Homo sapiens: one gene and its partner. The protein of the gene in region 2 purifies or fractionates together with the protein of the main gene of each other region. This does not show direct contact. Each region holds a gene or a part of one and is shown on either strand. Other genes may lie near its edges.

Region 1 (7,951 bases), about 100 Mb from region 2:
AGGTTGCACCACTGCACTCCAGCCTGGGCAACAGACTGAGACTCTATCTCAAAAAAAAAAAAAAAAAAAAAGACTAACTATCAATTAGGAAATATTTACGTGTAGCAGTACTAACAACATTGAGATGGACTAATTTACAGAATCCCAATACTTTCGTTCTAATTTTTTTTTTCAGGGTGTTGCTCTGCATGATTGTAGCTCACTGTAGCCTCGAACTCCTGGGCTCAAGGGATCCTCCCACCTCATCCTCCCAAGTAGCTGGGACCACAGGTATATGCCACCATGCCCAGCTAATTTTTTATTTAATTTTTTTTTTTGTAGAGACAGGGTCTCACTATAGTGCCCAGGCTGGTCTCAAACTCTTGGCCTCAAGTGAACCTCCCAAAGCTCTGGGATTACAAGCATGAGCCACTGTGCGCAGCTGCTTCCAAAGATTTTCTAGAGTGGCCAAAACCCCAGATAATCCATGAAAGAGCATGAAAAGTATTTTAAGGGACAATGGAAGGGGAGAAACTGCTACCTAATATTCTCAGCAACTTTTCCTGCCCTACCTGACAAGCGAATGATATTGAAGAGGAGGGTAACTAACTGAACAGACTCTTCTCTCTCCTTCTATCCAGGCACCTACTATCCTGCAAATACGCAGCTTTGAAGGACTTAACCAATGACCTTAAAATCTATACCAGGTCTACAGTTCTAGGAAGCGTATAAGCAAATGCTGCTATAGAATTTGGATTTTCTTTAATGATAAAAATGCAAATGACTCACGTTTGGTCATCCACTCCAACACAGCACATTCTAAAGAACAGGAGTTCAAATCCTCCTTCTGCCAAAAGATGTTGTGTCTTCACACACAAATAAGTAATTATGGATTATATTACTACCACAAATTTCTGTTTCTCACTGAAGGCATATGACATTTTAAAAAAGAACAAAAAATCAGAAAGGAAATGTTTCAAGTCTATTTTGAGGTAAAGCAATCAATTTACCATTTATCTTCCTCAGACTTACATATGAAAGCCCCACACACATGCGCACACACAAGATCCCCAAAATGTTGACAACTGTTGAAGCTGCACAACGGATACCAGAGTTCATTATACTATTCTATTTTTGCATATATTTGAACATTTCCATAATATGCAGTTTTTTAAAATATGCATGTGTGTGTCTATAGGTGTTTATACATAAACTCCCAATAAACTGACATAGAAATATCCAATTGTTCAAAGCTTTCATTCTTCAAAAGTAAGTGAATTTCTTTTTTTTTTTTTTTTTTTTGAAACAGTCTCTCACTCTGCCACCCAGGCTGGAGTGCATTGGCACGATCTCGGCTCACAGCAACCTCCACCTCCTGGGTACAAGCAAGCGCATCCAGCTAATTTTTTTGTATTTTTAGTAGAGATGGGGTTTCACCATGTTGACTAGGCCAGTCTCAAACTCCTAACCTCAAGTGATGTGCCCGCCTCGGCTTCCTGAGGTGCTGGGATTACAGGCGTGAGTCACCACGCCCGGCCAGAATTCCATCTAGCTACTTTCTTATTCTAGAAGTTGTACTGCAGGTGACCAGACCATTAGAGAAGGTCTAGTGAAAGAAATAATTAACTGCCCCAGAATAAAACAAGCCTAACCTTGAAAAGAGGCAAAGGGAAAGGTGCTAAACAGTTATTACAATTAACTGCATGTTTATATTTGGTCCTGTTATCCTCTAACACAGGTGGGTAGGTAGAAAAGGGGGAAGTATTTTAGGGCCAGATTTCCTTTTGATTCTTTAAGTTGATGGGCAAGAGAGGCTGGAATAAAGAAATCTAAAAAGTCTCCATTATAAATGATAACCAAGCCAGGCACAATGGCGCATGCCAGTAGTTCCAGCTACTTAGGAGACAAGAGGGGAGAATCGCCTGAACCCAGGAATTCAAAACTAGCCTAGGCAACAGAGTGAGACCTCATCTCTAAATAAATAAGTTAATGAATTAATTAAAGGTAGAATTGTATAATATATGAATTATACCTCAATTTAAAAACAATTTAAGCCCTATACAGTGATGCATGCCTATAGCCACAACTACTCATAAGACTGAAGCAGGAGGATAGCTTGAACTTAGGAGTTTGAGAACAGCCTGGGCAACATAGAGAGGCCTCATCCCCCTCCCACCCCCACCCGAAAAAAAGCATTCATAGCTCATCTTAGTATAATCAGCAACTTCCAATGACTAACTATGCTTTCCTGCTAGACATGAATTTATAAAACACATAAAAATTATACTGTATCTGCTTCAATTCCTTTTTTCATATTGCCATTCAATTTTCACAAGATTACTTTAAATGCAATCCTAAATTCATCACCAATTTAACTTTTGTTAGTTATGTCTAAAAATAAAACTAGTCAAAATTAAAAATACTAACTTTGCAGCAAATTAATCTTGCATCAGCACTACAAACAAATTTTTAAACTTATTGTAGCAAAACATAACTTCGACAGAATCAAAGACATTAATTCTCAAGTCCAAAAAAAGGTCACAAGAAATTATTTAAAGTGGTAAAGGGAAACGCAGACTTAGGCATACAAGCCAAGAAAAAAAAAATTAGAGATAACTCCTCCGCTAGAACCTCCCCCCAATACTTCCATAGCAACAATTATTTCCTTAGCACAAAAGTGATGTGTTCACTTTCACAAAACCTGGATCATCTAAGTTTGCACAATTCCCTTCAATCTAAAAAACAGATGAAATTGTTTCATTTAGGTGAGTAGAATTTTGTGTCCCTATACACGAAAAAAGTCACCATCAGTGTGAGTAAACCACATGGCTCCAGCTTTAAGATCTTGTTCCCCAACCCACTGAAAAGAGTATATGCTTATAAAATATTCATGGACTTACCAGGTTAAAGACAGTTTCTACAATATCCCTATTGGATACTTCTCCAACTTCAACCAAACCGGTCAACACGGCAAATTTCATTCTGATGCCCCTGATGGGGAGCCCTGGTTTCAGAGACAATGCACCCCCTTCAGTAGGGGTTTCTTCTCTCCCTCCACCTCCCCCGTCATCACCTGTTGGTGGCGGGGAAGGGACACGATTGTCTTCGCTAGCCATTGCTAGCTCACGATAAAGGACAACTCAGAGTCACCCTGGGACGGCAGTCGCTGCACTGGTAATGAGCACAACACACGCAATGCAAAACGAAAGGGTCCCTCTTCCAACTTGTGGAGATACCCCAAAGCAGTTGATGTGGAAAGTCCTTGGCGTCGCCCTCCTCCTCTTGGAGAATATTTGTCCAATCTCTCTCCCCGAGGCTGACAACAACGCCAAACCCTATTGGAAGATTAAATATATGTTAAATAGGCTAGGTTTTGTTTTAGGGTTTTGAGGGGACAAGAGGGAAATAGTTATTGTCGGTCAAGTAAGTTACTAAAGGCACCCCACTACTAGCCACCCGCTTCTCCCGGGCTCAAAAAGCTGGGTTCTGGGTGAAGGCAGGTCCAAGAGGCCCCCGAACAGGCTCACTCCTCCCCCACTCTCGTGCAGGTTCTAGGCGCAGGGTAACCTCTCCTCACAGGTGCACTAGAAAGAGAAACTGTCGCGGGGAAAGGAGGGATCGGAGGAAAGAAGGGGGGCCCACAAGCTATCACAGAGGTAGAAAGTTCTTCCTCACCCAGATACTCCGGACTCGTCCTCACCCCCCGCCCAGGAGCAGCGAGACCGAGGTGGCGGCGGAGATCCAGGGCAGGAAAAGGCGGGGGAAGGGGGCGGTGATTATTCTAAATGCTCGGCCCAGTGGGAGGAGTGAAGCACCTCTCTCAGGCACCTGAGATTCGACGGGAAGGGGTGGGGAGGTGTGTGTGGTGGCAGGAAGGGAGGGGAGCGGCCAGAGAAACCCAGCGGCCACCGCAGGGAGAGAAGGGAGGACAGAGAGGTCAGTGCACCTGGTCGCAGCCTCCAAGTTTCCCTAGTCCGCTCCCCGGGAGTCCGCGGCTGCACAGAACTCCATGGCTTCCTGGCCCGCCCCGCCCCTGCGCTCAGCCTTTGCAAAAGCAGCCGCTGCTGGCGCTACGGGCGCCGCGGCTGAGGCTGCTGCGAGTGGTGAGGATGCTACTGCCACAGCTCGCCCCGCCACGGGTCGCGCGGCTGTCGTGTGCCCACTGAAGCTGCTCCCGGCCGCCATGACAGCGCCGAGTGCTGCCGGGCGCGGCGTGCGCGTGCGCGAGCGCGAGTGCGCGGGGCGGGAGGGCGCGAAGGCGGAGGCAGCCGCGCGGCGGGGGCGCGGTGACGACGCGCGGACAGCCAAGGGGGCCCCGAGCCAGCCGGAGTGCTGGGCTGGGGCTTCCGGCTGCACTAGGCGCGCTGCTCTGGTAGCACCAGGTGTGTACCCGGCCCGGCGAGGAGAGACCCTTCCGTCCGAGGGCCTACACTTTCCCCTCTCCCACTCTCGGACCTCGGGAGGTGCTTCTGCCAAGTCCTGAGGCGGGGATTTTGGCGCTCCTGCTGTTGTTAAGTTACCGTAGGGTCTCTTGGCGCGGAGGGAACACGCGCTGCGTTGCCTAGGTGTCTCATTGGACTTGGAGAAGAACACCTGAGGCACCTCTACGAGCCAGAGAGGTGACGGCGCTGGAGCCAGTGAGGCTGCTGTCCCTGCCCAATGGGAGCGAGGAGTCCCCACCCCTGGCTGCTTTCAGCTGTTGCCCGCCCGCCGCTCTCGGCGGAGACTTGGAGATTTCCACTGGGATACCTCGGCAGCTGCCGCCATTCGGGAGGGGAGGGGAGGGGACCGAGTCGACGAGGAATGGGAAAGATTCCTTGCTTTGCAGCTGCCGCGCCACGAAACCTCTCCCACATTCATTCTAGGCAGAGGATTCCTGAGACAGCTGCTATAAACAGCGTGGAGACAGGGTTCCTTGTGCCTGTAGACCTCCGAAGGGTTTTTTCCTCTCGTGATTTTCCAATGTGAAGATTAGGCTCGCGTCATTCTCAGAGTAGATCAAAAGATAAATTATATTAGGTAGTACAGATAGGTCCTCATACTCAGTGTCCCTTCTTTCCACCCGCTATTAACAGTAAACCATTCTTCCTAGTGAGTGAAAAATAAATTTAGAGGAAGGTGGTTTTTCACCCACGTGTATCCTTTGAGGTCAAAGGGCCTTTTTAAAAATACGCCTAGCTCCTAAAATGAAAGTGAAGCAAAAAGTGGGATTAAACAAAGGAAGAATTCTAGAGAACTTAGGAAAAAATTATAGTGGTTTGAGAAATAGTTTCCTGAAGAAAAAGTTATTTGAGATGGCCTTGAGAAGTGGACAGAAGCCGGGCGCGGTGGCTCACGCCTGTAATCCCAGCACTTTGGGAGGCCCAAGCAGATGGATTGCCTGAGGTCAGGAGTTCAAGACCAGCCTGACCAATATGGTGAAACCCCCGTCTCTACTAAAAATACAAAAATTAGCCAGGCATGGTGGTAGGCGCCTGTAATCCCAGCTACTCGGGAGGCTGAGGCAGGAGAATTGCCACTGCACTCCAGCCTGGGTGACAGAGGAAGAGCGAGATTCTGTCTCAAAAAAAAAAAAAAAAAAAGACAATTTTAACTCTCACATGGAAATTTGGGAAGAAAAAGGTAACAGACGCAAAAAGCAAGGGAGGGCTGGGTGTAGTAGCTCACACCTGTCATCCCAACACTTTAGGAGGCTAGTGCAGGAGGATCACTTGAGACTAGCCTAGGCAACAGCAAGACCCGTGCTCTTTTTTTTTTTTTTTTTTTAAACGGAGTTTCGCTCTTGTTGCCCAGGCTGGAGTGCAATGGCGCAATCTCGGCTCACCTTAACCTCTGCCTCCCGGGCTCCAGCGATTCTCCTGCCTCAGCCTCCCAAGTAGCTGGGATTACAGGCATGCGCTAATTTTTTTTATTTTTATTACAAGCCCGCCTAATTTTTGTATTTTTGGTAGAGGTGGGGTTTCACCATGTTGGCCAGGCTGGTCTCAAACTCCTGACCTTAGGTGATCTGCCCGTCTCAGCCTCCCGAAGTGCTGAGATTACAGGTGTGAGCCACCGTACCCGACCAAGGTCTCTATTTTTTTAAAAAAGAAGCAGAAGAACAAGCAAGGGGATATTTTCTTTAGAAAAGTGTTACACGTTTTAAAAATACTAAAATGAATTCAACTGCACCAAATCTCATGTGGTTGCAAATGTTTGTTAAAGATTTGTTTTCTGTAAGTAGACTTAGATATTCCAGAGATGAAGCAGACATCTTTCTGATGATCCGAATTGCCAACACATTTCCAAAGTAAAAGGCGACATCAGTGGCTTCCCATTTCTGAAATCTCTGAAAAACTAAACACCTCAAGTTTGTTTCACATCATTAATGAATAACTCTGGAATAAGGGGGAGTAGGGTGTGCCTGCAGAAGAGACACAACTTTCACTTGACCTTTCACACATCCGTATTTCTAAAGTGAGGCATTAATCCTAAAAGGCCTCTCATCGGAGTTTGTCTCCTCAGATGGGGCAAATGGTGTGTTAATATATCTGTCATATAAGTGCTAATTAAGTATTTGTTAAATGAATAAATGTCTTCCATTAAGAAGCAGATGATAATAATGAAAATGCCCCCAACACAGAGTGATCACAGTCTAAATGATCTAGGGCTAAGGTTTGTAGCTCATAAATTTGCAAGCTCACTGTTAATGCTGTTCTACTGATGAAACAATGAACACAGACAATTAACCAAATATTTCTAAATGCCGGGTACAGTGGCTCCTGCCTGTAATCACAGCACTTTGGGAGGCTGAGGCAGGCAGATCACCTGAGGTCAGGAGTTTGAGACCAGCCTGGCCAACATGGTGAAACCCCATCTCTACTAAAAATACAAAAAAATAGCCAGGCGTTGTGGTGGGTGCCTGTAATCCCAGCTACTTGGAGGCTGAGGCAGAAGAATCGCTTGAACCCGGGAGGCAGAGGTTGCAATGAGCCACGACCACACCTTTGCCCTCCAGCCCGGGCAGTAAGAGCAGAAACTCCATCTAAAAAAAAATACATATATATATATATATATATATATATATATGCACAAATTGTCAACTATTTATAAAAATTTTTCAACCTCTTTGCCCATGGTTAAAACAAAATAGTTGGCAAAAATTGGAGGTTCACTGCAGAAAGAAGCATAAGGAAGGTAGAAGGCGAAACTCTTCACTTCTAGGCAAGCCAGTTAAAATGCAATCACTAGGCCCGGGTGCGGTGGCTCATGCCTGTAATCCCAGCACTTTGGGAAGCAGAGGCGGGTGGATGACCTGAGATTGGGCGTTCAAGACCAGCTTGACCAATCTCTACTAAAAATTACGTGGCGCATGCCTGTAATCCCAGCTACTCAGGAGGCTGAGGCAGGAAAATCGCTTGAACCCAGGAGGCAGAGGTTGCAGTGAGCCGAGATTGGCCACTCCAGCCTGGGCAACAAGAGCACAACTCCATCTCAAAAAATAAATAAAATGCAATCATTGTGGATTATTATTTAGGTGTACGACATAGAATCTTGGAATGATTCCAGATGAACTATCTGCCTCAAATCTTAAGCTCCTTTATAGCACAATACTTTACACATTACAGGTATTCATATTATTTGGATTGAGTCGAAACTCTAAAGTTACTTGCTTTAATTTTTCTCACCTGAAAGCCCTTGTCTGCGCCTACACAGCTATTAGCAGTGACAGGGAGGAAAATCCTGGTATGAATGGGTATCTTGGCTGGGCACAGTGGCTCATGCCTGTAATCCAAGCACTTTGGGAGGCCAAGAGGGGAGGATTGCTTGAGACCAGCCTGGCCATCATGGCAAGACCTCCTGTCTACAAAAAGTTTTAAAAATTAGCCAGGCATGGTGGAACACATCTGTAGTCCCAGCTACTGGGGAGGCTGATGTGGGAGGATCACTTGAGCCGAGGAGTTCGAGGCTGCAGTGAGCTGTCATGTTGCCA
Region 2 (7,901 bases):
TACAAAATAATTTTAAATTAATTGTTCTATTACATTATAAAGACACAAAAAAATGCCTATTTCAACTGATGATTTTTTATGCTAACAATAAAATATCCAAGTAATCCACTTAATGAAATGCTTTAACAAACTGATTTATCAGAGCATGTAACCACATAACTAATATGAGTAAGACATGATAAAACATTTGATAAAAATAATTTTATTTAAGTTTTAAAAAGCTATGAAAACTACAATGTTGTTCATACTTACGTATAAGTTTAGGGATGGAACCATATTTGGGATGACTTGAAAGTATTCCTAAAGAAAAGAGTTAAGTATTTCTGAGTAACACTGTTACAGAAAGAAAAATCAGTAAAGGCTATCTTTAAATATAATCTTACAACATTAGCTCCTTCCATGATCCTACAGAACCCTAGACTGTTTAATAGGGAAAACCAAATGAATTCAGTATCAAGAGAAATATGACGAAAATCCAAAAGACTCTACAAAGTATTAGAACAGGTAAATTTAGAAAGATCACTTGATGTAAGGTCAATAGACCAAATATATATGTGTGTGTGTATGAAAAACTGTTTATACCAACAACAAACAAAAAAACAAACATTTTTTAGAAGACAGAATTAATTATAGCACCAAAAAAAAAAACGCTCAAAACCCAGGAACAAATCTAATGAAAGATATGAAAGATCTCTACACTGACAAGTTATAAAACTTACTGAGAATTGAAAGACCCAATATTCTAAAGATGGCAATTCTCCATAACTTCACCTATAAATACAATGCAATCCCAATTAAAATCAAAGTTTTACAAAAATTGAAAAGCTTATTCTAAGAGTCATGTGGAACACAAAGGGCCAAGGCAACACTGAAGAATCGTATTATAGAACTGACTACCACCAGATAGCAAAATCTACATGATAAAGCTGTAGTAATTAAGACAGTCTGGTATTAAGTACAAGAATAGGCAAACTGACCAAAACTAAGAGTCCAGAAACAGATCCACACCTGCACACTTGATTTATGACAAAGACAACACTGCAGCATAGTCCTTTCAAATATAGTGCTGGGTCAATTAATATCCATTAACAGGGGAAAATGTACCTTGATCCTACATCGAACAATAATCCAGATGGCTTAAAAATTTAAATATGAAAGATTTTTTTAAAAAATTTTACAGAAGAAAGCATGAGACCATCTTTGTGTCCTTAGAGTAGACGAAGATCTTAAAGAGTCAACAAAAAGCACCTATTAGAAAGAAGAAACCTGATAAATTGGACTCTATTAACACTGAAAACTACAGTTAAACAGAGTGGGGAAAAAATAATCACCATATCTATATCTGACAAAAGACTCAATTCCAAAGTATACAGAGAAGTCTCACAAAACCAATAGGAAAAAAGACAATACAATGGAAAAATGGTTAACAGACTTAAACAGATACTTCACAGAAAAAGATATGCTGAAATGAAGTATAAACAAATGGAAAGGTCTTCAACTTCATTGGTTACAGGGAAATACAAATTCAAGCCACAATGCAATCAATATTAGTGTTTATTTACCACAATGGCTAAAACATAAAAGACATAAAAATAGCTAGTGTTGGTGAGAATGTAGGAGTATACATTGGTCTAAATAGTTTGGTAATATCTACTAAAGCTAAATAAATATATACAAAATCTATGACCCAGCAAAATGTCTATCAAAAAGGCACCATATTCTTGGCAAAACTAATTGTAACAGTGAAAATTGAAAACTACCAATTATCAATGCACAGTTCAGATAGATAAACTGGTGTATTCACACAGAGGAAAACTATAGGGCAACTACATGCAACAATGTGGTTAAGTGCAATGATGTGCTGGTAAACCAGCACTCCCTATAAAAAGCTCTAATTTTAATGTTTGTCAGTTTCCATGGTGTAAAGCTACCAATTCTTTTTTTTTTTTTTTTGAGACGAGTCTCGCTCTGTCCCCAGGCTGGAGTGCAGTGGCGCCATCTCAGCTCACTGCAACCTTCGCCTCCTGGGTTCAAGCAATTCTCCTGCCTCAGCCTCCCAAGTAGCTGGGACTACAGGTGCACACCACCATGCCCAGTTAATTTTTTGTATTTTTAGTAGAGACAGGGTTTCACCATATTGGCCAGGATGGTCTCAATCACCTGACCTCATGATCCGCCTGCCTCAGCCTCCCAAAGTGCTGGGATTACCGGCATGAGCCACCGTACCCGGCCAACTACCAACACTTTAAAAACCAGCTTGCCAAAGTTCCCGAAAATTTAACAACCAATTCTCAGGAGCCAGTACAAACCAGTTCCAGCATGCTACTGGATGAATCTCACCATGTTGAAAGAACTTACATAAAAGAATATTTCAGTGTATGATTTCATGTAATTAAAGTACAAAAACAGACAACTAATCTGTGCCTTTAGCCTCAGTTCCTTCATTTATAAGAACTGGGATGACAATAGAAAAAGGAAGATGGTAAGAACATCTCTATTTTTACATTAAAAAGTTGTTCCTTCATACTGTCACCAACTAGTTATAGACCACTTACAACATAAAGGTACTACATACTGGATATTAACAGGAAACAGGACACACTCTTTACTCTCATGGAATTTACAGTCTAGAGAGAGAGTTAAGACAAAGATAATAGTGTCATGGTTGCTATTCATCCCCTCAAATATTTGAGTACTATGTGCACTATGTATGTCCTCTGTCAGGTGCTAGAAATAGCTTATTTTCCTAAGGAGAAGTAGCAAGAATGGAAACAAACAGATTTGTTGAAGGTTAACGCAATACTCTTTGTGACATATGGTTGCATTAATTATGCTGGCAGTACAGATGGAGGTAGATAGTTAATAAAGACATTTAAGAGCTAAAAGACATTAATTGGACAAGGCAGATAAGGGATAGATGTGAAGGATAATGTCCCAGTTTCCTGGATAGTACTAACACCACTCAGTCATGAAGGGAAAGGAGGAATTGGTTTTGTGGAAAATGGTTGAGTTCTGTTTGAGGAGCCTATAGAAGGGCCATACATATTATATATTATATCCAAAATATAGTAACACCAACATTTCCCAAACAACTAGACAAAAAAACCCATACAAGAATGTAAGCACCAAGAGTTAATGAATTTTTGTTGTTTAGTGCTATATAACAATGTATAGTACATATCAGACACTCAAAAAACATGAAACAGAGGAATCGCCTGAGGTAGGAGAAAAATCTTAGGAATATGCCATCATGGAAGCCAAGAGAATAGACTATTTCAAGAAAAACTGGTTAAAGTTATGTAACGTTGGTCAAGAACAAAAACTGTCCATTATATTTAAGCAACAAACAGGTTGTTTTTGAAAAGTTTGTTTTTGAACTTTTGAAAAGTTCCAATAAATGGTAGAACATATGGATAGTCTCACACTGACTGCAATGGGTTAAACGAAGTAAAAAGTGAAGGGCTCATTCATGAAGTCTGCCTCTGGCTTCAAATATGAGGCAGTTGGGAGTAGCTGGAAAAACAAATGAGGGAGGATTTTTTTTTCTTTTTAATGTTCTCAAGTTAGAGGAGACCTGAGCATGTTTAAATGGTTTTGGCAGATCAGGAAGAAACAGAAGGAACATCTAAGACCACGTGGAGTATGACACACTGTGGATGAAAGGGGATACAGGCAGCCCTCCATATGTACATGTTCTGCAACCAACTGCGGATAGAAAATATTTAGGAAAAAAAAAACTGCATCTATACTAAACATGTACAGACTTGTTTCTTGTCATTATTCCCTAAACAATACAGTATAACAACTATTTACATAGTGTTTACATAGTCTTAGGTATTATAAGTAATCTAGAGATGATTTACAGTATACAGGCAGATATGCACGTAAACTTTACTAGGCCGTTTTATATCAGAGACTTAAGCTTTTGTGGATTTTGGTATCCTCTGGAGGGTCCTGGAACCAATCCACACAGACACAAAAGGACCACTGTACAAAATGTCAGGGATTTTGATTAAATGCAAAATGTCTTGGTGGATTCCAAATTCTTTTCTTAAAGTCTCTCTCAATTTTTACCTTTTTTTTGAGACAGAGTCTCGCTCTGTTGCCCAGGCTAGAGTGCAGTGGCGCCATCTCAGCTCACTGCAGCCTCCGCCACCTGGGTTCAAGCGATTCTCCTGCCTCAGTCTCCTGAGTAGCTGGGACTACAGGCACGCACGACCACGCCCGGCTAATTTTTTTGTATTTTTAGTAGAGATGGGGTTTTATCATGTTGGCCAGGACGGTCTCGATTTCCTAACCTTGTGATGCACCCGACTCGGCCTCCCAATATCACTTCTACCGTACCCTCAAGTAGCCCAAAGTCTTCAACTGCACCTAAACCCAAAATCTCTAAAAAACTTCCTCCTCTTCATAACCTAATCCAAATTATAATTTCTCCTGGCTCTACTTCAGCTATTTAATGGATTTTTCACTCCTCCCTGCATGATTTTGTCTCTTCAGTTCAGTCCTGATTGCCTCTCCCAATAGTTATGCCTATTTGTCTTCATCATCAGGTCCCTCCTTCCTGGTATGTTCTTTCTTCTCATTTAATCTAAATCCTGCCCATCCTTCAAAACCCACTTCTTTCAAGAAACTTTCCTTGATTACAACAGCCCTACAAAGATCTTTCTTCTTTGAACACCTACAACTCTTAGAGTCTCTACTATACAATTTAGTAGCTTATTAAGTATGTAATTAAATTTTCTATTTGCTTCAACATATGTTCACATCCATTTGTTTCCTCCAGTGAACTACTAGCAGCTATTAAATTCTTTTGTGTAACCTTCTGCATACCTAGCTCCAATCATTATTAAATGACACACTGGATTAAAATAGATAAAAGAAGCAGAACAATAATAAACACTGTAATTTCATCCCTGTGCCAGTTTTTCCTACAAAGAATGTAATTCAAGTGGGGTTTTTTTTGTTTTGTTGTTGTTGTTGTTGTTGTTTCACAATACAGAACCAATCTCAGTCTATAAAACAGCTTAGTCTTAAGGACATATAAGTGCATACATCTTGACTCGCTTCTATGTTTAAGATTTTTGTCATGGTACTGTATTGTAATGAAGTTCTTCAGAAGTTCCTTAAATAAATTTTTACCCCAAAAATCCTCTCATTTGCCTCCAAAACTACTTTTATCAACTAATTGTGTCAAAACTAAGTACCATACATCATATCCTAATGTGAAAAGGCTAAATCTTCCAATCATTAAGTCACATTTTTGAAGGAGCCAGTTAATTAAAACAATAGGCCTCCAGGCCATCCTAAGGTCACCATCCTTTTCTGGGACACCTTCCCATTACCAGATAGATAGTTCATGAAGTAAAGGAATTAAGCAACTCTACTGCTTACTCCACTACATTTTAAATGCAGGACTCAAGACATTTAATACTCAATCTAAACTCAATTCCACTACTGTACTATTTGAGCCAATAGACTTTAGGACAAGAAAGTCTCCTCGGTGGCTCGTTAAAAATAGATCACCTGCCAGACCCCTGAGATTCTGATTTTTTAAATAATGCTAACTCACCGCCACTCATCCGCCCCAGGTGATCAGACAAAGCTGGTTTAGAGAGCTACTGATCTTTAAATCATTATATAAGAATCACTTCGAATTTGTTAAAACACAGACTCCTGGTCCCCATGAATGTGCATTCTAACAAGCTCCTAGGCAATAATGTTGCTATTGGCCCACCTAGACCAGGTTTGCCCTGCTAATACTGGTGTTTAGTTACCTTCTTGCTCTTGCAGATTGTTAATGATGCTATTAGTGCAGGAGAAATTCTCAAGTCATGATATTTGAGCCAGTGGGTCCACAGAGATAAAACGTTTAAATTCATCAATGAATTTCTACATAGTGTTTAATATGATACATTGTTATCTTTACTTTTTCTAAAGACCTGGAAAATACCACAAAACAAACATGGTATCCAAAATGCTAAATAAATTCAAATTTTAAATATTTACCTTTACTAATTAATCCTTGAGTAATCAACATACTTGTTGCAGCCAAAGGCACAGCTATAGGAAGAAAAAGACCTTGTTAACATCAACAAAAGTAAAAGATTTTGTCTAAAGTTCATTAGATAAATGAATAGCAGTAAAACCATCTAGGAATTATATTGCATAACTAAGACCTTTAAAAAAGACTGTTCCATTTTTAAAAGCTGTACTGTATACATAGTGGAAAAATTAAAGGAGCATTTTAAATTTAAGAAAACATCACAAAATATTAAACAATATAATTCATGAACCATCTAGGCTTAGGTTCCAAATAGCCAGCTGTTCATCAACAGCATCAACTAAGACAACACAGTAAAAGTGACTCAAAATTACTTCTGAAGTAAGAGAAGGGGAAAAAGTTAATGAAGGAGAGGTAAGAAACAAGTTACAAGTAAGAACCACTACTGAGTAATGACTAAATTCTGTGCATCATGCTAAGCGCCTTATGTGCATTATCTCATTTATTATACTTTTTATCATATTTCTATAAGGTAGATAATGTTATTACCACCCTTTTAAAGATAAGGAAACTGAAGCTTAGAGATGTTAAGTAATTTGCTCAAGGCCAAACAACTAGTTGAATGGTTGGTTACAGATTCTAATAAAATCTGTCTGATACCAGATCTCAAGCTTTTAAGCTCTAGTATACCATCTAAACCAAAATACAAAACATATTTGACCGTAATCATACGGTGGCTGGGGCAAAAATTAAAAAGCACATATTTTAAACACTTATGTTCTTTCTTCTAAACTAGTGAACTCCTTAAACTATATGAAAATATTACATCTATATATATATATGCCTAAAACCGAGAGTGAAAAATCCAAAACTCATAATCTCAAAGGGGGCTATAACTTAAAAACAGCTATGAATCACTGTTCTTTACACCAGCACTGTCTAACAGAATTTTTTATGATAATGGAAGTTGGTCTTTGAGTGACCAACCCTGTGATCAATTTGGTCTTGGTACTTGACTGGTAAACAGTTCCCCCCATTGATATGCGTAATTGGCTCACTGTGCCCAAACTGTTTGTACAAATACAGTTCATGCCAAACATCTGCTTTCATTCTAGGAGTCTGGAATTTTGGTACCTGTTAGGCAGAGGGTGAATAAGTGACCAGCCCCCAATAAAAACTGTGGGCACTGAGTCTCTAATGAGTTCCCCGGGTAGATACAACTTCACACATTGTTATGACTAGCTGTTGGAGAAATTTACACTCCCTGGGAAGAGAACTCTTGGGACCTGGTTTCCGCCGGACTTCACCCCATGCTCCCTTTCCTTTTATGATTTTGCTTTATATCCTTTCACTGCAAGTTATTTTAAAGTTAAATTGCTACATGTGACTACTGGCTGCCACACTGGACAGTGCTGTTCCAGACCTGAGGTTGGCAAACACGTTCTATGAAGAGCCAGATGGTAAATATTTTGGGTTTTGTGGGCCAATCTCTGTCCCAGTTACTCAATTGCCGTTTTAAAGCAAAAGCACCGAAAGACAATCCAAAAACACATGAACGTAGCTGTGTTCCAACAAAACTTTATTTTTAGATGCAAACATATGAATTTCATGTAATTTCACACGTAATGAAATATTCTTTTCCTTTGATTTCTTAACCATTTTATCTTATTTTATGTTTTTAGACAAAGTCTCACTCTATCACCAAGGCTGGAATGCAGTGGTACAATCTCATCTCACTGCAGCCTCAACCTGCCGGCTCAGATGATCCTCCTGCTTCAGCCTCCCAAGTGGTTGGGACTACAGGCATGCACCGCCATGCCTGGCTAATTTTTTGTCTTTTTTCTTTTTTTTTTTTTTTTTTGTAGAGATGAGGTTTCGCCAAGTTGCCCAGGCTGGT

What was found. Proteins that work in one complex are often made in the same cells at the same time.
Region 1: the proteins of OCIAD1 (region 2) and LRBA purify together in Homo sapiens (co-immunoprecipitation; 2 studies listed by BioGRID and IntAct, with this or other methods). This does not show direct contact.

Annotation. Positions count from the first base shown.
Region 1 is NC_000004.12:151,011,548-151,019,498, forward strand, and holds the start of LRBA (lipopolysaccharide-responsive and beige-like anchor protein), read right to left. Parts: upstream 3,738-7,951; 5' UTR 3,655-3,737; intron 3,315-3,654; 5' UTR 3,096-3,314; coding exon 2,880-3,095; intron 1-2,879. UniProt on the Homo sapiens protein: Involved in coupling signal transduction and vesicle trafficking to enable polarized secretion and/or membrane deposition of immune effector molecules. Involved in phagophore growth during mitophagy by regulating ATG9A trafficking to mitochondria.
Region 2 is NC_000004.12:48,840,798-48,848,698, reverse strand, and holds part of OCIAD1 (OCIA domain-containing protein 1), read right to left. Parts: intron 6,064-7,901; coding exon 6,010-6,063; intron 301-6,009; coding exon 253-300; intron 1-252. UniProt on the Homo sapiens protein: Maintains stem cell potency. Increases STAT3 phosphorylation and controls ERK phosphorylation. May act as a scaffold, increasing STAT3 recruitment onto endosomes. Involved in integrin-mediated cancer cell adhesion and colony formation in ovarian cancer.